Regions from separate parts of the Homo sapiens genome. Here region 2 is linked to region 1. The links come from fine-mapping of genetic effects on plasma protein levels. A gene starts in region 1. The other region holds a variant in brackets. All regions are shown on one strand. Distances are between the middles of the regions. Region 1 holds the start of NFASC (neurofascin). Region 2 overlaps NFASC (neurofascin).

Region 1 (10,974 bases):
GTGACTATTGTTATTACGCCACTTTTATTTTTTTCTGGCTTGCCTCAAGACCTAATGAAAAAAGGGTGGCCTGAGAGTTCTCAAGCTGGCACAATCTAACCAATGTCCTGGGTCAGCAAAGCTGTGGAAGTGCCTACTCAAGCACCCCGCACAGCCATTAACTCCCAGGCCCTCTTCTGCAGTCCAGGGACCAGGCCATATGCATCCAACATCTGCCCTTACAGTTAGGCCTGGGCCCTTGCAGCTAGACCTGGGCCTTAGCTGGGCATTGTAAGTGCCCAAAGGTTTGTCATCAACTTGCTCAAGCCAAGGCAGGGGTCTGTCCAGACAGTTTGGTGCAATCACTCCAGATCCTACTGCTCACTATGACCCCTCAGCCATGCTCCTACAACACCAGGAATTCATCTAACCTCAATTATAGCAGTTCTTGTGCTGAGTCTTAATTTGGTTTCATTTCTGTGTCTCCAATTTGACTTACATGCCCAATAGCTTGCACAGCTCCTGACAGATTCAAAGGCTCAGGATACATTGATGAAATGAACAAAAATGGGTGTGTGGGGGAAAAGAGGGGCTACTCAGACAGATGAAACTGACAGTCTCTCTCCTTAGGCTATTTTCCCACTTCGGCTATGGATATTTGCGGGAATCTGTGGTCAAGTGTATAGCTTCTAAGGACCTCTCCTGCTTACCAACAACTTGCCCTCCCCATCAATGACTCCCACCTGACTCTGACCTCCCCATAATGCCAAATCCTTTCACACACCTTGCAGGTGTGTGAACCTTGCAGTCCTCACAATATTTTTCCTCGCCTTGCCTCTCAGCACATCCCTGTGCATCTTGCCTACACACGAGTAGCTCCCAGAGCCTCTTTCCTCTGACTCACTGACATTCTAAGCATATCCAGCCACACTTTACCCCTAAAATACAAGAGCTTAGAAGATGGGATTGGGAGAGTTAAGCAGCCTCGACCTCATCACAGAGCTCCCTTTGGGTATTCCCCTATCAGGTTCTAGCCACATCTAGCCGGGTTCACCTTGTTCACACAGGTGTTCACACAGAACATTACCCCTCTAGCCCTTCAAGCTGGGGATCTGACAACACCTTGAACCTCATCTTGTCCCCTACCCTTTTCCTGAGAGTCAACTTCAGGGTCAGCCCTGAGCTACCATTCCGGATAGCATCAGCCAAGCCCTCTTCATAGCTGTGGAGAGCAGGGTGCTGATACCACTGGAATTAAAGATCCCGCTGTGTAACATCCCTATCCGGATGCTCTTGCTCAAGCTTATCTGTTATTTGTCTGATCACCTGTCTTCCTCTTCCATTGCCCAGGAGCTCGGAGAGATTGGACCCTAGCTTACTTTTCATCTCTATGGTCTCAGCACCTAGCAGAGCAGCACACCGTAGGGCTTAATGGATCTTTGTTAAATGAGTAAGTATGAAACCGGCCTTACGTTCCTCTCACTTCTCCCCTCCCCACCCCAAACATCACCCCAGGCAAACAGACTGAGAACTGAATTTTTCTGCTTCCCCCTCTCTGATTTCCTAAGAATTTCTTTTTCTAAAGACAAAGGGATGATTCTCACACTCCAGCTCCTCCATGGTCTTGAAGATCTCAGGGTGCCTCTGGCCTCCAAAAAAGCCTGAGGGAGAAGAGTGGAGCCAGAGGTAGGAAACAAGTTGCAATATACTGATCAGAGCCTTGGCATCCTGTCTCTCACTCACCACAGAAATCAGACCCTCCTCTGGCCCACCCACCCCAGAAATGCAAAGCCAGAACCCCACCCCCAGCTCTCAGCCACCTCTTCAATGTGTGCCTTAAAAGAACCAGCCCTTGTGAGCGCAGCCAGTTCAGCCCACAGGGAGCTGGCTAGGTACAATTGGAAGGTCTTGCTCCAGCTCTCTGGGGAGCTGGCTTCTCCCTCCGTGTGCCTTGGTTTATTTCTCCGTACTCTTTCTGATGCCAAACAAGGGGGTGAGGGGTGAAATTCATTGCACAAAACTGGGAAATATGTACACTGTTATTAGAATCCCCCACTTCACCTGAGCTCCAGTCAAGCATTTCAACATCAGGACCTTAATCCAATCAGCTCTCAACAACGGCTGCAGGTAATGCTTTCTCCCTGTACCAGGAAAAGCTGGCAGCCCTTAGGCACTGATGCCAGGGAAAGCTTCCAGCCCCACCCCCTCTCACGCTGGAGAGGCGACGGAGAAGGGTGACAAAGCAAGGTGCAGCCAGTGCCCCCAGCAGCACATCCCCTTGCCAGGCACTGCCTGAGGCCCATTCAGAGTTTACTGCACAGGAGCTGAAGGAGTCCAGTCACTTGGATTCCTAAAGTGAAAGCCTTGCAGAGAAGGGACAGAGTCTGTCTGCAATTCGCTCTTAACGCCTCAATTTAAGCCTCTGGGTTTCGTCTAAGCCCCTAAGACAGGAATCGGGCTGCCATTCCCTGTTCCACAGTGGCAACCACAATTTCTGGGGCTAAGTGGGAGTGAGTCTCTTTCCTTACTGGCATAATTCTCTCTCTCTCTCTCTCTCTATACACACATCACACAACACACACACACATCACAACACACACACACATCACAACACACACACACATCACAACACACACAACACACCCCTTCAGTTGAATCCAAAGACAAGGGGAGAAATTACTCCCTCCGAAGTGCCAGCTCAGTCAAGACAAAAGGTGAAATGTATTAGCTGCGTAGCAGGCCCCCATCTCCTTCAATTCTTCCTGCAATGCAATTCCACCACATCCAATCATCCCCAAACCAGAAGGAGGATAGATCTCTGCCTGCCTTCCTCCACTGCCCCCACCTCACAGCTGGTATGGCCCCTATCCCCAGAGGCTTCCACTCTTCACACACATTTTCCCTGGGCTATTCTCCTATTGCTTTAAGTTCTGTGGGCTCTGAGGCTGGCTTTGGCTCCACACAAACAATTAAACTCCTGTCCAACCAGGTCTCAAAGCCCTGTGGCTTGCCCTTGCCTTGCTGGAGATTTGACTGAGGCCCAGCAGGGCCCAGCACATTTCCAAGGGTAGATGAGACGCACTAGGCCCTCATGCCAGGGACACAGGCAGGCAGAAAAGGGGTATTGTTGTCCTCTCCCCCACACTGAGGGATGAGGCATCTCTGCTCAACACACACACACACACACACACACACACACACACACACACCCCATGCCAAAATGCCAAGGAAGGAGTCAGGAGCAGAACCTGGCTCAGGACAGGATGGGGGCTGCCATGGGGACCAGATTCTAGGTGATTCAGCACTCTGCCCACTCTTGGCCCAGCCCATGGGCCACACTCATGACAGCTCCAGATGCCAAAGTGCTGACTTGGAGGCTGAAGCAGAATCTTTTCTAAAATCCAAAATTATCCAGCCCTCCAGCAGGGCTCCTCATCCAGGCCTTTACATCAGGGCTCAGGCCAAGCCCCAGGAGGAGTCTGCTCAGTCATTCCCCTGGACCCTGCCCCTTCCCCATCCTAGTTTCCCAATGCCTAGCACCCCCTCCCCCAATCCATCTAGGAAACAAACCTGAACAGCTAGAGGAGTAGAGTGGCTGCATGGCTGGAGAGGAACATAAGAGAGAGGCCTACTAACCCCCAGCATTCTTCCCCAAGCCACAAATAGGATCGAACATGCAGAAAGGGGTTATATTCCACAACCAAGATCCCCACCCAGGGAAGGGGGGTCCAGAGGCCACTGAGGGAGGGCTGGGTACAGGCTGTATGGCTCCACACAGCACCAGGAAGGGCAGCTAGGGAAGGTGACGGGTGTCAGGCCAGCTAACAGCCAAAGGGGGGAGAAGGCGGGGTTCTTGAGAGGGACTGTGATGCAGGAGGACACCAAGAGGCAGCTGGGAAGGGGCTGGGACAGGGCGTGCAAGGGGGAACCAGGGGAGGACAGAAACTGAGGGAGCAAATGGAGAGACAGGACACCAACTGGTAGGGGCATGAGATGGGGAAGAGAATAGGGGAGGCAAGAAGGGGCTGATGTGTGCGGTAGGAAATACAGGAGGCATGGGGTCATCCAAAGTGGGGTGTCGAGGTAAACAGAAGTACAAGGGCAGGCAGGGCTCACGGATGAGGCGGGGACAGAGAGGAAAGGGAAAGGGTTGAGGATGCGGGAAGGGGGAGGGGACGCGGCCAACGAGATAGAAAGGGTGTTGGGGTGGGCAGGGGGCTGGGAGCTGGACGGGGACGGGGTGGGCATACGAACAGAATCGGATGGATTCGGGGCAGGTGACAGTGTGGAGAGGGGAAGGGATGGGAATGTGGACGGAGGGGGAGGGGGCAGGTCAGGGGATGGAGACAGACGAGGGCGGGAACAAGGGGGTGTCGCTAGGTGGGTTTCCATGACTCTCTACCCCCATCTCTCCGGTGTTCGCGCTCGCCTACCTCCAAGGGCTCGGGCTCCGGCCCTGGGCGCTGTCCGAGCTGTCCGCTGCCGGCGCCGCCACTTCCCCCGCGTCCCCTGCAGCGCCTCTCGCCGCCAGCCGCCGCATTAGGGCAGAGACCAGCCCGTGCGCGTCCCCGGGCGGCCGGCGCGCCCCCGACACCCTGCGTGCGCGCCCCCGCGCCCCTCCCTTCGCGCTCCTAGCGGCCGCTGAGCGGGGACCAGGACAGAGGCGGAGGGAAGGATGCTCCGGACGCAGCCCCGCCTGGCGCGCTGGGGAGCGGTGCGCAGAGCCAGGGCCGGAAAAAAAAATCCTCCTTTCTCTTTTCACCTGAGGCCTCTTTGCGGGCTTGCCTGGAGAGTGATAACTAGTCTCCCCGTTTCCGTTCGCTGAGCACCTACTACGTGCAAAGCACACAGGAGGAAGTACCCTGAAGCCCCAACAGGATCGCTTGTTTGCACCTCCACCATAGACTGTGACTTTAGGGAGCAGGAAGTTGCCGGACAGCTTGTGTTCTCAGGGCCTAGCACAGAGACTTGTTTGTGGTAAACTCTCCAGCAACATTTGTTGATTGGCAAGTCGTTGGATCCTGATTCAGGGATGTGAGAGAGGTTGTGACTGCTATGAACAGTGCGGGGCTTTCTTTTAGAAATGGGAGATTTCCTCTGCCCTAGGGGGACTCAGGCCTCAGTCGTGGCTGGAGAACTATCTGACATGATAGCAAGACATTTATCTGTGGACATCAGTTTCCACAACTGAACCATGAAAAGTTGATTGGGTGGTCGCCCAAGGTCTCTTCTAGCTCTGACACGAAGACTGCATTAGGTTCTGTGCACAGGATCTGAGCTCAGAATTATCACCTGAAACAGTGGAAAGATCCCAGTTAGGGAATCATAGAATCTTTGTCTTGGAAGAGCACTTGGAAGCTTCTAGTTCAGCTCCTCATCCAAAACTACAGTCCCCTGCAGCATCCCTCTGTGGCCCCATTCAAGGGCTACTTTCTCTGTGCTCATAGCTCCTACCCTGGCACCACTGTCTTTTATTCTGGATGAGAACACCAAAGTTCAAGGAACCTGCCCAAGTAATAATTCAAAGCCCAGATGCATCTGACAGTGCCTAGTTAAAACTACTTTGCTATTTTAAGATGGGCCCTACAAGTTTTAGATTTCACCAATACTAGAATCTTCTAATATGGTCAAGTTGAAGGATCACAGGATTTGCCAAGAAAGTCCTGGCTTACCAGCAGGGTAAACTTGGGCAGTTCACTTAACCTCTCTAAGTCTTCTTTTTCCCATCTGTAAAATGGGCATAGAGTGAGCATCAATGAGATAAGGTACTGAACCAAACTGTTCTTTACAAATGTTAATTATTGTTCAGCCTTCCCTCCCCTTTCTTCATTACTTTTAAACAGCAAATACACGAAGGTCTAGAGAGATGGACCCCACACAGTGGTTTGGTGGTTGAAACTGAACTGGGACTCAAGTTTCATGGCCTTAGTATAAAGAAATTAAGTGTGGGCCTAAAGGGAGCATGGTGACCCCCAGAGGCCCTGAGGGTGAAGGTGTTTCCTTGGCCTCGGTGGTGTCCCAGAGCTGCAGGCAAGTCCTGATGGAGGGAGAGGCACCCCCTGCTGGTGATGGACTCTGGGGACTAAGAAGAGCCTACGCACCTTGCAGGCTGTTCTGCTGCTGTGTCAGGAACAGACTCACTCAGGACCGAGGGCAGAAAGTGGTTGCTCTTTTTCTTTCCTGACATTTATCTGGCCTTCCTGCTTCTTTTTCTTCCCTGGGTTTGCACCTCTAGTTCTGGCTGGAACCCTCAGCAAGCATGGACTTTCAACCCAGACCTGAAACCTCACTCACTGTGTCCTCTGTCATGGTGAATGGCAAGTCACAGGATTTTCACATTCCCTAGTGTTTCATTCCTCCCAATGAAATTCCATAAGCCCTGCCTCATCCTGGGCTCAGACCAAGAGAAAGCCCCAGGTATGAGTCTCGGGCACTTGAAGCCATCCTCTTCCACACTGGTCCCTAGGAAGTGTGGGGAAACTGGCAGATTCGTGCATCATTGGTGGAGGTTTAACTTGGTATGGCCTTTTTGGGAGAGCAATACAGCAGTACCATCAAGACTTTAATGACACCCTTGACCCATCAATGCCACCTCAAAGAATCCAGCCTGCAGAATCACTGGCCCAATCCACAAAGATGTGTATGCACAAGGATACTCAGTGCGGCTCAAGAGGACAATGATTACATCCATTGTAATAATCCATGCAATAGCACAGTTTTAAAAATTATAACAATGATAACACACACACATTTGTTTTTTAAAAAGCAAGTTAATAATGACATACAGGGAATAAAGGTATTATCCTTTTCTGGGGGAAAAGGGAAAGCAAATTGGGAGACAGGGTGGGAAGAAGAGGAAAGAGGGAATAATGCCCTGGGCTAGTTTAGAAGATAAGAGCAAAGGCCCTTAAGCTTACTAGGAAGGACCTAATTTTTGTTGAAGCCTTTCACATACTAGGCCTTTTGCATATATTATGTTACTCATTCCTCAGAAACCCCAGTGAGGTGGGGATCATTGTCCCCAATTTACTGATGAGGAAATAGATGCCCAGTGAGGTTAATAAGAGTACAGCATCACACAGATGGGGTGTGGTACAGTGTTAGCTTTGCCCCTAGAGAGATCTGACTTTTGTCCTTGGCTCCTGGGAGGTCATCTCTGAGTCCTTGGTTATCTCACCTGATAAGAGTATCTTTATCTACCTGGGGGTCTTGGGCAAAACCAGGTAGTCTATACTAACAATGATGGATGGTGGGGTCTTTGGGCATGCATCGGCTCAACCTCCAGAGGGGCTAGAAACTAAGGTCAACCACTTGGATGGTCAGCCATGACTACATGACTGAGCCCCAATAAAATCCCTGGACACTAAGGATTGGAAGAACTTCCCTGATTAGCAATATTTTGCATGCAGTGTCACACATTGTTCCTGGGAGACTTTAGCACTGTCCTCAGCTTCATCAAGAGAGAATAACTGCGATCTCTGCACATGCAACTCTCCTGGACTCTGCTTGACCTGTCTCTTCTTTTGGCTAATTCTAATCTGTATCCTTTTATTGTAATAAACCACCATTATGAGCCTATGAGCTCTCAGTTCTATGAGTCCTTCTAATAAATTACTGACCTAAGAGGGGTCTTGGGAATGCTTGAGCTTGCAATTGGTCAGAAGTAAGAATGGTCTCAGGGACTGCTTCCTAACTCTGTAGATGGTAAGTGGTGGAATTGGGAGTTGGACAAAGATCTTAGAGTCTCCAGGGTGTACCCTCTCCCACTGCACAACACTCCCTTACGCCGACCTATTGTATAACAAGTGCCAAAGGACAGAAACTCTGCCACTGATACAAAAGGGCTGGGCTCCCGGCTAAACCCCACCCTTAAGCCTGGAACTGTGGCCCTAAGTGGATATAGCTGACCCCACTTTTCCTCCCAAATGTTGCCTTTTTGGCCTGCCCTGCCCCTATCCCTTGCCCATAAAAGACTTTAGCTGGCAGAGAAACACAAGTGGCTGAGTGGCAAGGAGACAAGTGGCTGAGCAGTGAGCAGAGAAGCAACTGAACATCAGAGACTGTGGATAGACATGGCTAATTTCAGGCAGTGTGGCTTCAGAGAGGGGCCCAGATGGAGACAGCCAGGCTTCAGAGAAAGATTACCTTCCCATCCCCTTTCCAGGCTCCCTTTCCACTGAGAGCCAACCACCACTCAATAAAGTCTTCCACACTCATCACCTTTCAAACAGTTCATGTGACCTGATTCTTCCTGGACACTGGACAAGAACCCGGGTGCTGAGAGGGCAGGGGCTGCCACCCTGACCTTCCACTGAGCTGACTGACACTTGGCCATCTCTGGACAGCAGAGCTGAAAGAGCATCCATTGCAACACACTTGGATGCTGCTGCAGGGCCCACACAGAGCTTGCTCCCACCAGAGAGGAGTGACCGGCTAGTTCTAGCATTCGTTCACTCTGGTTCCCGCACTCACTCACACACTCCCTTCTGCCAGGAGTGGCCATCAGCAGGCTGAGTGAAATGAGCCACTCCAGTTCCTGCCCACAAAGGGGGTCAAGGGAACAATCCTGTGTCACTATCATGAGGAAGAACAAGAGCAGAGTGATAGTCATGCTGAGCTCTAGCAAAGCAGGTGGATGAGGATGCAGAAAAGCAAGCAGAGTAGCATGTTCAGAAGGAATGTAGAGGGGCAAATTTTAGAAAGTTCCAGGAATATAGGCCCCCCCCATAATGCAGGAGGGCAGGAAGACAGGTGCAGTGAAAGCCAATGGGAAAAACCACTAGGAATTTCCCATAGGTCCCCCAAGAAGCTACTAGACTCTTTGATCTCTTATCTCATCTCTCCCTCAGCATCTTCTAGTCTCTCCCTAGGCCAAGGGGGAAAGTTGCATCCCAATTTGCACACAGCATTAAGGGAAGGAGGGAGGGATCCAGGAACAGGGCTCTGGTCCTTCTCCCATTTGGCCAGTGCACACATGCTGGTGATCCAAAGCAGTGGCAGATGTGGAGACCCCATGCTGTCTGCAGGTCCTCATCACCCCCCAACACCTGTCACATTCTCAAGTGCCTAGAATTTTCTTCCCCCCATGCTGGGGAGTAGCCAAAGGAAAGGAAGCACTCAGCCCAACTCCAAGCTGGAGAGCATCTTTCCATCTGCTCTCTTACTTCCCGCTTTGAAATTAAAAAATAAAAATCTCCTTGGGAGTTGCCTCTTGCCCACCACTGCCAAGGGCCAGCCATAGAGCTCAGTTTATGAAGTCACTTGGAAATGTGCATGTGTTAGAGCTTTTACCTTCCAGATGCAGAGACCTCCCCAAGCTACATAGAATTAGTCTTCCACTGTACGTAGGTGAAATTCCATTCCTGGAATGGAATTTGAGAGATGGGGCAGTGAATGGGGAAGTTAGAGAGGAGGAGAGAGAAGCTTTGGAATAGCCATTAACCAGCCTTGACTCTAGGCCTGGGTATCAGACCTGTCCCTGCTCCAAGAGTGAGGGAGGCAAAGGGTGGAACTGCCCCACCGTCTGCTTTTATACAGAGCATGTTTCCACCTTTAAAGACTACCTTTGAATTTCACCTGCATAAATATATTAGAAAGAGTAGGATTTTTGGAGTCTTTCTCTACCATGATGAAAGGCCTTGTATTAGTCTGTTCTGTCATTGCTATAAAGAAATACCTGAGACTGGGTAATTTACAAAGAAAAGAGGTTTAGTTGGCTCATGGTTCTTCAGGTGGTATAGGAAGCATGGCAGTATCAGCTTCTGGGGAGGCCTCAGGGAATTTTACTGATGGCAGAAGGGCAGGCATCTTCACATGGCCAGAGCAGGAGGAAGAGAGGTGAAGGGGAGGTGCCACATACTTTTAAATAACCAGATCTCACTATCGCGATGACAGCACCAAGGAGGATGATGTTAAACCATGAGAAACCACTCTCATGATCTAATCCCCTCCCACCAGGCCCCACCTAAAACATTGAGGATTACAATTTGACATGAGATTTGGGTGGGAACACAGATCCAAACCATATCAGGCCTATACCTGTTTATTAACAATAGTAGTAAAATAAGCTATTTCTCTCTCTCTTACTTCTAATGAGCCAACCAGCAAGAAAAGCCCAACTGCAAACTCTCTCTATAAACATATGAAACCTTGTCTTTCTGGAGGACTTTGAGGACTGGTCTTCTAGGTGGGTTGCTTCATAATCCTGTCCCTAGACAGGGAAATATGGTCCCTCCCCAGGTGGGAACCCTGGAATTTAGAAAACCTTTATCAAAAGAGCTTTTCCTTTTGCAGTTGTCTTGCAAACGTATTTGTGTTAATAGTCTTGAGAGTGATTGTGCCCAGCTAACCACAAAGGCATTCATTTCATCTTAATCAAATGGTTAAAACATATTAAAAGCCTGGTGCGGTGGCGCATGCCTACAGTCCCAGCTACTTGAGAGGGTGAGGTGGGAGGATTGCTTGACCCCAGGTATTGGAGGCTTCATTGTGCAATGACCATTTTTGTGAATAGCTACTGCACTCCAGCCTGGGCAACACAGTGAGACATTCTGGTCCTTAAAAAAAAAAAAAAAAAAAAAAACCCAAAACAAAATATATTAAAACAATCTCTTTTCCGGAAAGCCCTTACTCACTTTGTCTTTGTGATGTACTCCTTTCTGAAGACTCAGCTTAAACATCTCTGGTGTGAAAAACAAAACAAAACAAAACAAAAAACTCTTCCTCTGCCAGACTCAGCCTCTCATCTGTGCAGCAGTGTACACAGTAAGGGCTTCCCTCATAGCACTTACTGCACTGCGTTTCCAACTGGAAGTTTCCTAGAACAGGGACCATCTTCCTCTCATTGTATCTACAGGGTCCAGCACTATACACTGCTCATAGCTGAAGCTATGGATGAGTGCATGATAAATAAAAGTATGAATAAAAGCAGAGCTGCTATGAATATAGACAGTGCTATCCAATGACAGTAGCCACTAGCCGCATGTGACTATTTAA
Region 2 (10,974 bases), 150 kb before region 1:
TCTGAGAGCCACCCGCATTTGTAGGTGCAAAGGTTTTATTTTCAACAAAACTCCTTCCTGTGACAGGAGCAACCAATAAAGCAAAATATAGACAAAAGGTAAACTTCTCCAAAGTCAGAAGAAATGAGTTGTGGTTAACCACAGCATGGCTCCTGCTAATGAACTCAAAATTCCAGAATGGACTTTAGTTCTACCGAATTTGTGTGTGTCTGTCCTGTCCTTCCCAAGAGGTCAGAGTTCTTTAAACATGGGTGTGATTCTGCTCTTTATTTTCTAAGGGCCTGGCCCAGGAATCAGTCCTCTTGGAGCCTGCTATACAGAGCCACAGACCAGGGTCCTGAATCTGGGCTCAGCCCAGCTGCCGTTGCCCTGTTTGGCCAAGGCTGCTGTGGGAGCAGCCTTCAGAAAGACAGGGAAGGTCATGATCCCAAACACTGCATCTCCCAGTTTCCATTACTCATGGCAGAAGCTCAGAAATGTTAATATTTCAGTGGCTGCGTTTGCATTCTCAGACTGGGAAGTGGTTTGGGAAAAAAGTCATTTTGAGACCACATACTCCAGTTTTGGTTTGGAAAATGTAGTCAGTGAGCCAGCATGAAGATGGGATTTTCTAAGACCAGAGGGAGTCTTTGGAATGACCTAGTCCATTCTTGGACCAAAAGAAAGCCTGTACTGGACACATCTCAGATGTTGGTCTCTCCCCAGCTCCCACAAATCTCCAGTGAAAGGGCCCTAGGACACACCAGAACTTGGTTTGGTGTTGTGCTTAGATCTTTTCTAAAGTCTAACCCCAGTCCCTCCTCCTTCAAGAGAAGTCTGCTTGATTTTGCTGCATCCTCTATGCGTTTTGCTAGACTGGCAGTCGGTGGACCCTGGTCCCCTCTGCTCCTGTCTCCTCTCTGAAATCTTACACTTAGACATTTGTCCTGTTTGGTTTCTGGATGCCCAACTCAGAGAGGAGCTTGGTTTCTCAAAGAAGAATGGCCACCAAGACCAGCCAGAGAGTCTGAACCACATCATGGCCTCGTAGTGTCGGGGCATCAAGGGAGAGGGGCTCCCGGTGCATGCGGCAAGGTGAGCTGCTCCACTGGGGCTGGGAGGGCCTCTTACCGTCCACGTGATCTCCATGTTGTTCTTTCTGGTCCCCTCTCCCTTCACGTCACCAGGATTGGACTCGGGGGCTGGAACCCAAACAGACACAGGCTCAAGTCCAATTTGTGCCTTTCCAGGGCAAGGTAAGGAACCTTCCTCTGTCCTACCTGATGGGTCTGTTCTATGCTCTGTCTTTCCTCGGCATCTATGTATACGCTTGGTCTGGTATGTAAATGAGCTTACTCTGTGCATGATGTGCCTTTTGAGCTGAGATTTAAACTCCCAGAGCAGGGCTAATTTCTTCTGAATTTTAATCCTTTACCAGACAGCATTTATCATAAGGCTTTCCACACTGTGGGTGGTCAGTAAGCCAACTCAATGTGGATTAGCTCCTTTGTGGATTATCCACTAAATGTGTTTCATACCAGACTGGCTTATCCCTGGCATTTAACATTTTTTTTGGGCAGCATCTCTACCCTCTATGAGCTGGTGTGATTTCAGAAATCCAAATATTACCCAAGAGTGTTAGGAAAAGAAATCTGATGTAATACCAATTTATATATTTCTCACACTGAATTATGTATTTCTGCTGTACCTCTTTGCCACAGCTCTCCCCTTTAAAGCAGATAATCAAGAATTACTAATAATAAAAATGGAAGTTAGCATTTATCATGTGCTCACTACATGCCAGGCATCATAGTAAGTACCTGGCACACATTCTCAAATGTTCACAACAGCTCTGTGATGTAGGTGTTATTATTACTCTCTGCCTCACAGATGAGGCCGGGCCTTGGAGAAGTTAAGTAACCTAAGTTCACATGGCTGGGAATGGGGGGATCTCAGTGTGAGTTTGGGGTGCGGGGTTCCGGAGCCTTCTCTGGCAGCCCTCGGGTACTCACGTGCTCCACTGGTTCGGTAGCGCTCGGATGGGAGGCTGGGGTGGCTGCTCCCAACCTCGTTGATGGCAATGACACGGAACTGGTAGTTGACATACGGGGACAGCCGGAGGACGGCTGAGTTAACGCTGCCGGGGTACTTGGAATGGTCATGCCAGACCCCAGGTTGGAACTGGTCTTCTTCAAACTGGACGACGTAGTCTGAGTGGGCAAGGAAAACAGAGCTGTTTCGGGAGCTCAGTTAGCAGTGGTCTTCTTTAAAAGCACTTCCTTCTTGGCTTCCATTGATCTTTATAATCTCTCTCACACAAAGGCACAAGGAGAATTCTTCCCAAGGCACAGGAAGAGACACCAAGGCCTCTGTACATTCTGAGGTTAGCCCAGGACACACATCAAGCGAGGCAGAAGTGGGGCTGGAAACCAGGAAAGGCCTTCGGTTTAAGGGTGTTGCCGTCCCTCTTTTCCAGCTTTGGGGTGCAAGGCCCTGAGCTACCTGTGATGGGGCTGTTGTTAGCATCCCCGGGGATCCAGGTCAGCCGCACGCTCCTCTCGGCCAGGTCGGTCAGCTCCAGGTCCCGGGGCCGGTCTGGCCGTCCTGGTGGCAGAAGACACCACGCAGGCCTCCTGAGTTAGAGCAGGTCCACCCTTGTGATGGCCCTAGCCCTGGACAGCTCCCTGACGGGCTGTCTTCGCTACCAGCTGGATCCAACCCCAGCCTGCCCTGAGGGGTGAGCACAGGGACCACTCCCTTCCCACAGGGGCCCAAGGGAAAACAAAGAGGAGACTCCTGAAATCCCAGCCCCCCCCCACAAAGAATATCAATGGGTGTGGAACAAGGAAATAAAGGGGCTTATGCAGACAGAACTGGGACCAACGCCATTCCGTCTTGGTGGATCTTCTGAGAGTGCAAGCATTCAGGAATGCCACCCGTCATCAGACCCATGCTCACGACACTTAGGAAGGCTGATGAGGGAGTGTGGGATTCTGTCCCATTTTCTCACATTAATTGTCCTCTACTTTGTGTGCCAAGGCTCTGAGGAGATGGGAACCCAGGAGAGGGCTTGGCCTGCTGAACATGGCAGATGGGTTAGGGGAGTGGGGGCAACAAAGAGAGGGGATCAGACCAGGGAGGAGATGGAGACTTGGCTTAGGCATTTCATTGATGGACAGCAGGACAGAAGCCTAGCAGGCTTGCAAACAGGGGTGAGGGCAGCACCTTTTTTAGGGCATGAATCTCACTGGGACTGCTTTAGTGGGTCTAAGTGCCATCCTGGCCTGGGATAAAGACATCGGCTACTGAGTGGTACGGGTAGGCAAGATTTTCTCTCCATCTTGACTCCCTGAACCAGGTATTTCCATCTTTCAGATGGTCACTAGAAGGACTTGGAAGGTGAGTCCTACAGGCCCACGTTCACGTATGTGTGGCATGTGTGTGTAGATTGTAAATGGATAGAAAGCAATAGATGCAGGGAGGCTGAACAATGAGTTTCCAGGTGATGTGAAGGGAGCAGGCTTTCGCATTCCCTGCAAACAGGACCTGAAAGACTGCTGGGAGGACAGGCCACCCTGAGGGAGCGGTGAGTGTGGATGGAGGCAAGGGATGGGGTAAAACAGCAGCCGAGAACTTCCGAGCTCACCCTGTAAGGAGCAGGAAGCCCAGCAAAGGGCCGTGGGGAGGTGGACGTGGGCAACTCAAAGGAGGTCCCATGTAGCCAGGAGTGCTGCCCACAAACCTACACACTGTCGCCCTTTCCCAAAGTGGCTTCCTTCTCCCAGACTCCACACCCTGGGTGCCAAGAGAGGGCACTGGCAGGGGACTGTGATTAGTGGGAATTACCTTTGGGCAGGGCAGCCAAACGGTTAGTTGGAGTGGCCTGATCAGCTGCAAAGGTAAGACGGGTTATCCAGGTTAGCAGGTTATCCAGCATTAAAGGTGTTCTAGAAGGATGGGGGTAGGCAGCCGAGGCTTAAACAGCTGCCTCTGGGCTGAGGTGTTCTAGGCAGGGCTGTCCCCGTCCTTCCATGGGGAATCCCCTACCCTTATAGAGGCCATCTGTGTTTCCTCCACAGCTGGGGGCGGCACCTCTGTTTCCTTACCATCCCAATGTGACTATCGTGTCTGGGCCCACCCTCTCTGCAACTGTGCCTCTCCACTGCGCCAATGCTAGTGGCAGTAGGGCACCCACGGGGAGGCAGAGGTGACAGAGGACCTGCTTGCCTGGAAGGGAGAGGCCTCCTTCCTCTTGGTTTGGGTTAGCTTAGTATTTACAGTCCAGCCTGGGTGCAGGACAGGAAGACACAACGTCATCTTGCTTAGTGCATAGCATGTGATGAAACGCTACCAAAACCCAGGGATGGAGCGGGAGGGAAAGGAAGGCTGGCAGAGGTCATTGGAAGCACAAACACAAACTCAGTCTTGCTTTAAGGATGGATTGTTTTAATTGACTTAGTGGTGGAGTTAGCTGTAAGAAAGGTAAAATGATCACAACGAGAAACCCCTCTCCACTTTCTCTATATCACTCAGGCCCCTTTCAGTTGAGACGTGGGGAAGTTAATGACTCCACTCAGGAGGTAACCTGTCCAGCACAGCTTGTTCTGAAACTGGCAGCTCCCTAACCCTGACATCACGAGGCAAGAAGAGATCACCACGCCTGACCCGGCCACTTGACTGCAGGCACTGCCCTCGGAACTGCCCCGGGCCACTGCTTCTCTGGCTGCTGGGGAGGGGGTGGGGCTGGTCAGTGCCAGGGTGAGCATGGGCAGTTACCTAGCACGGTGAGGTAGGCCTTGGCCAGGTCTTGGTCTAGCTCGGTGCTGGCGACACACGTGTAACTGCCCTGGTCCCGCTCTGCCACCCCAAAGATGGTCAGGGAGTCGTCTTCCTTCTTCATCCTGCAAAGGTACCGAGGAAGGGTTGGGAGGAGGGGGTAGGGGAGTGCTGAGTCCTGCCCATTGCTTTCTCCCTAGAGGGGGTTCTCGAGTCAGGAGGGCAAGGGAAGCTCCTTCTGGGGGTATGAGGCTCCCTCTCAATGCTTTGACAGAGGTGAGGTCTTCACAGTCACCTGGAGCACTCATCATACTTGATGGAGGGGAACAGAGAGTGGGCGGAGCTCAAGTGGCTGTGAAGCACGTTTGCCACCTTCAAATTCTGTACGTGTGCCTGCCTCTGTGCCTTTACTGTGCTGTGCACCCCTCCCAGATGAGGGCACCATGAGGCCCATGACCCCAAGGTAGGTTGGTATTCCTTCTCCTCTCATACTTGTAGCTTTGTCTGTCTTCAGCCCAGACTTGTCTCCTCTGCACCCATGCTCAGGCCAGCCTGACCCCAGGCTCCTGGGAACTGTCTCCTATAGAGAGGGGAGGCCACAGAGCAG[A/G]ATGGGGCTGTAGAGCTGTCAGCACTGAGTGCCAGAAGGTTTACAGAGGGGAACACCCTCTGCAAAAAGTCAAATGATGGCTAGAAACCGCTGGTACCGTGTCCAACTGCAGGGCCCTGCACAACTTTGCTCCCTCGGGGTGGAAGAAGGTAAAGCAAAGTAAGCCCTGGGGAGGGAGGCTCGGAACAGTGGTTCTCAACCCTGATGCACACTGGAACCCCCAGGGGGACTTTTAAACCCTGCCAGTGTCCTAAGTCCTACCCTACACCAATGAAATCAGGGTCTGAGGAGCGGGGCAGGCGTGGGTGTGGTAAAAGCATGCCAGGTTCAGTCAGGGCTGAGAGCTGGCTCAGATCAACCCTGCCCTCTGCTGAAGATTAGGGGTACTGCAAATAGGGCTGAAAGGCTGGAGCCTGGGATGCAGCAAAGGAGGAAAAGAGAAGACAGGGGCAAAAATGAAAGGGAAAAGAGGCGAAGTGAGGGGAGACAGGGAGAGGAGAAGTGAAGAGATTGAGAAGAGGGAGAGAGAGGAGGTGTAGGAGAGAGAAGCAGGGAGCTGGTGGGAGAGAGGGAGGTTGTACAGGGTCGGTGGGGGGGTCTCCCCTGAAGCAGGGGAGTTGCCCAGGCCATCACCCCCTCTGCAGAAGCTCCTTGGTGACATGCATGACACGGGTTCCCTGTCCCTGTGTTCTTCCATGTGTCACCAACAGCAAGGGAAAAGAAAATGCGCCTCAAACTAGCACTAGGAAGGGGGAAGGGGGAAGAGAAACCTGTTTCCAATATAGAGCGGCTCGTCATCCTTCAGCCAGGAGACGGTGAGTTTCAGGGAGGGGTCGTGCTTCACCCGACACTCCAGCTGCACCGTGGTGCCCCTTCTGGCCACCTGGTCCTCGGGCATCCGGTAGATCCTGGTGGGGTCTGTGGAGAAGCCCAGAGCACTCGCCACTGGCCTGTTCTCTGCCCAGCATCCCCATGCGGCCACAAAGTGGCATATGTCTGCCCTCGAGGCCTTGGGCCAACTATGGAGTGGGGCACAAACAGTATGCTATGGTATGAACGGAGCAGAGTTCTGGGTGGGTAATCCCCAAAGCAGATAATGCCCCAAATCCACTCCATCTGGCTCAGGAATATATGATGTAATTTCTGGGCTGGTAGTGGGGAGTTGGTGTGAGCAGAAGGTTTCCCTTCCTAATTCTCTTTGGACCACACTGATCCTAAAAGGACTCCACAGGTGCAAACTGGGCAGCCCACTCCAGGTTAAAGACAGGTGTGGTGCATTTTCAATGTGAATATTGTATGTGGATAACTGCCAGCATGGCCTCCTTGTCCCTCTCCAAACTCCCACTGGCGAACCCTCTCCTTTACCTTTGACCTCCAGGCGGACTTGGTTTTCAGCTTTGCCCAGGATGTTGGTGGCGACACAGGTGTAGATGCCCTGGTCCTCTTTGCGGATCATCTTAATTTCCAGACTGCCGTTCTCATAAACATGGTAGTTGCCACCATCCAGGTTGCTTCCTTGCCCATTCTTAAACCTCACAACAGAGCAGCAGAACACACAGCATCCTGAGACAGGACCAGCCCAAGGGCAGGGGCAGCAGCCAATCAAGAGAGACCATGGGGGCTGTGGAAGGAGCCCCATGCTAGGAGACTGGAGCCCTGAGCCTCGGAGGGTCTGCCTCTAGCCACCAGGTGGCCCTGGCAAGCCTCCATCCCTCTCAAGGTCTTGGTTTCCCATTCTGTACAATGAGGAGGTTGATCCAGATGATCTGCTAACTTCCTCCCAGCTTTGACCCTTTAAGATTCCCAGGTCTTGCTGAACACCTACTATGGGCCAGATGGGAAGGAGAAGATGAGACAGGTGACCCCTGCTGTGGAAGGCCTGATCTCCTGGAACTTACCATCGCAGTGTGGGGATGGGAGACCCAAAGAAAGGGCAGTCCAGCCGCGTCCGGTTGTAAAGAATCACTCGAATGAGCTGGTTCCGGGGCGACAGCATCCGAGGCGGCACATCTGAAATTCCCAGAGAAGCAATCTCGAGTGCCAAGTCTAAACTCTTCCATCTCTTCCCCCTCGGTCTCACCTCTGCATGCCTTCTGCTTACAGCAGCTTCCCAGGCACTGAGACACCTTCCCCTATCAACCTTCCCTCCTTCAGGAAGCCCCTAAGGATTAGGTGGGGAAGGAGAAGCTTACTACGTCCTCTGCCCTCAACCTACCCTACATCCAAATCCAGCTTTTGCAAAGGGTCTCCCCAAATTATCCAGCAGGTTCCATAGCTGCCCCATCACAGCCCTAAGGCATTTCCTAGCTACCCCTCCACCACCATCTCCCTGCCCAGCGGGTACAGCAAATATACTCAGAACCATTTCCCACCGTGAGATCCAGCTGCGAACCCAGGGGAAGTCAACATGGATACACCAAGGCGATGGGACAGTCCCACTCTATCTCATCAGGGGAGGGAGAAGACTAAGATTGACTGCTCTGATGGAATTAACTGTCTGCTCATCCAGCTTTGTGAATTTTAAGTCTTCCATCTGTACAATGAGGAGGTTGATCCAGATGATCTGCTAACTTCCTCCCAGCTTTGACCCTTCCATCCCTCTCACAAATTTTTTCCCATCTCCATGTTTCCCCTATCCAACATCCTCTTACCTCACCCAGCTTGGCCAATCCCCGGAGAAGAAAGTGTGCCCCACGACATAACCAAGCCCCAGGGCGACTGTGCAGTAGTGGAGAGGAGGGGGAAACAGGCTGCGAAGGGCACACTCACCCAGCACACTGACAAAGGCGTTGGCCAGCAGGTAGCCATGCTCGTTGGAGGTGTTGCACTGGTACACAGCCCTGCTGCTGATCTGGGTGTCCCGGAAGATGATGGTGTCTCCGGCCACCTCACGGTTTGGGTTAGGTGGTGCCGCTACAGACAAGAAAGAGACGCTCCTCATGAGAGATGGGGAGGGCAGGGTGAAGGGCACTTGGGGCTCTGGCCAGGGCTCCCAGGAACAAGCGGGGTGCTGTGGGGAGCACCAGATGGGGGGCCAGATGACAGGGCTTCTGGCCTTGCCACTGCTGGGCTGTGTGTGACCTTGAGCCCTTCTCTGAACCTTTGGGGTTTATTTCTAATCTAGCCTAGAGTATGGAATATGAATTCCTGTTCGACCTACCTACCCATTGGGCAGTTGTGGTTGAGAGCATTAGCTTTGGAAACAGAAAGGAGTTTTGGTTCTAACCACATCACTTCCTACCAGCATCATTCAATCTCTGTGAGCTTCAGTTTCCTTGTCTGCAGAATGGGAATAACAGATCACCTCATGGGGTTTTTGTGAAGATAACCTGAGATTTTATGCATGTACAAAATGATGAACAGAAGGTCTAACACATACTGTTATTATCATTTTAATCGAATGTGCATATATTTAAGTGTGTTTTGAAAAGGACAAAACAGTATACAATAGACAGAACCTACCACCTTCCCATCCTCCAAAGAGAGCATGCTCCAAACATTCATAAAGTTAAACCCATAAGCCAATGCCTCTTGAAAATGGAATGAGTCATTTTATTTGACAAAGCTCACAGCTCTTCCCCAAAAATGTGTCCTAAACTGAGAGAGGATATTCTTGCCCACAGTTCTAGTACTGCTGGCTTGGGATGCAGAGAGCAGAGGCTGGAGAGGGCTGGGGGTCCACACTTCACTCTGGGATCTGGGGTAAATCAACAAACCTTTCTGGGCCTCATTTCCTTCTTCTGTAAGATGGGGAAGAATCACTTCCACCTTTCCCCTACTCTAAGAAAGGCTAAGATAAGAGAACAATAATGAGCTGTAAAAACAAAAATTTTCTAGAAATGTAAAGAATTGCCACTTTTCTCATCTTTAACCACTAGAAAGTGACTTTCCTTCCTAAGATTTCTGGACTAGGAAGCTGATGACTTAGCTTACAGAGTACATGAACGCATTCAAGATGACTCAGACCTACAGGGGAAGTCAGCGGAGGATGCAGGAGTCGCCCTGCAGGCGCCACTCCACAGATAGCCAGCCTGAGCCCAGAACCGGGGAATCAGCAGATGGGAAAGGAAGACAAAGTTAGCACCCTTATCATCCACGCCCGGGTCCCCACTCAGTGAAAAGGGACCAAGGAAGGCAATGCCAGAAACTTGTACACCTCCTTGCCTGGCAAATTCTCGTGCAACCAATAATCCCCCCAGTCACTCTCCTTACACGTTCCCTGGGGAGAGTGACAGGTGACCTTTCCAGGGCTGAGGCTCAGCTGCAAGTCCTGAGCTGCTTTATTGAATGGTGCTGTAAAGTTTAGCGCAATTGCCTAGCTTACCCCCAAAGTCCTATTAAGACGGAGAGAACTGTAGAGGGCAGGCAGTGTCCATATCTCTGCTTGTAGCTGGGGAGTAACATTTACTGGGGATAACTAGGTTCAGTACTAGCTGGTGCAGTTGTATTGCAGACTCACAGCAACCCACAACTTCACCACTTCCTAGCCATGCGATTTTGGGCAACTCATTGCACTGAGGAGAACCTTATTTCCTTACCTTAAATGTTTGAAAGTAAAGCAACAATGGAGTGCAGCATCTAGCACAGAATGTGGCATACAATATATGTCTAAATAGGTAAATTCTTACCCTCTCCTCTACCTGTGTCCCCCCCTCTCCACCTGCTTCTACCAGCTGCTGCTCTTGAGTTAGACTGAGTTCTCGCCATCTACTTTTTCCCCATTTGGTTGATACCATTGTTTACATTTCCTCTGACCTCTTAGAGAAAGTAAGGACAGGACATTTTGAAAAGTAATGCAACCAGAGAGTCTATGATGTGAAAACTTGACCAAGGCCACTGATTATAAGGGGTCTTGGAGTCATCTACTCCATCCACCTGGGCAGGACTAAATGTCCCCAAAGTCTAAGCATACTCGATAAAGTGCACTTGTACATCTGCTCTTCTGGGGGCAGTTCTTCCTCATATCTAACCATAATATTTCACATTATTGTACAACCCTGCTTCTTCTTTTGCCCTTAGCAGAGAGCGGAACTTGAGTAACCAACAATGGGTTACTGAATTCTCCTCTACCTTCCCAGCCCCAGCCATCACTCAAAGCCCAACCACCCAGAGATGCAGCCACAGTCCCCAGGCCATCAACTGGGCTCTGAAGTTGTTCAGAGGGAGAAAGCAGAGATTTAAAAAACCCCAAGGGAGCAGAAATCCCTTAAGCATGGGAATATGACCACAGAGTTCCAGGCCTCCTGTTCTCTCACACAAAGAGAGGGTAGGTTTCCTGCCTCTTGAGATGTCTGAAGAGATGGGCAGCTGAGAAACAGCCACCAGTGGGCTTCTCTCTTCCTGAACTTCTAGTGTGACCAGCACTGGCTACAGTGATGGGGATCTGAAGCCTTTGACAGCAGAGAGATGAGAGTCAGATGGGACAACAGCTCGCTACTTACATTGCAAAGGTTCCCCATTCACCATCCACTGGACAGTGGGTTTGGGGTTTCCATTGGCTCGACACACCAGTCTCCCATCCTCGCCAGGAGCCAGAATAAGGTTCTTGGGTTCGTCCAGCCAGTAGGGAGCAGCTGGAAGACAAGACAGACACAGGCAGGGGAGTTAGATGG

Evidence for each region. A credible set is the group of variants that fine-mapping cannot tell apart. PIP is the posterior inclusion probability: the model's chance that the variant is causal. Protein levels are from the aptamer-based SomaScan assay of Sun 2018.
Region 2: its variant is the best candidate, but not a certain one, in a credible set for the plasma level of the NFASC protein (Sun 2018, PIP 0.52).

The regions. Positions count from the first base shown.
Region 1 is chr1:204,822,221-204,833,194 of GRCh38, reverse strand. NFASC (neurofascin) reads right to left here and starts at 4,543. Exons shown (of 30, transcript NM_001005388.3): 1 at 4,413-4,543.
Region 2 is chr1:204,970,577-204,981,550 of GRCh38, reverse strand. It overlaps NFASC (neurofascin), which reads right to left. Exons shown (of 30, transcript NM_001005388.3): 11 at 10,804-10,935; 12 at 8,132-8,275; 13 at 7,261-7,372; 14 at 6,728-6,894; 15 at 6,133-6,280; 16 at 4,756-4,880; 17 at 3,826-3,870; 18 at 2,482-2,583; 19 at 1,992-2,189; 20 at 1,111-1,181. Among named protein-coding and RNA genes, the nearest start is that of CNTN2, 67 kb to the left of the region's middle. RefSeq lists a silencer at 5,703-5,822. The variant A/G (reference allele first, on the strand shown) is at 5,363.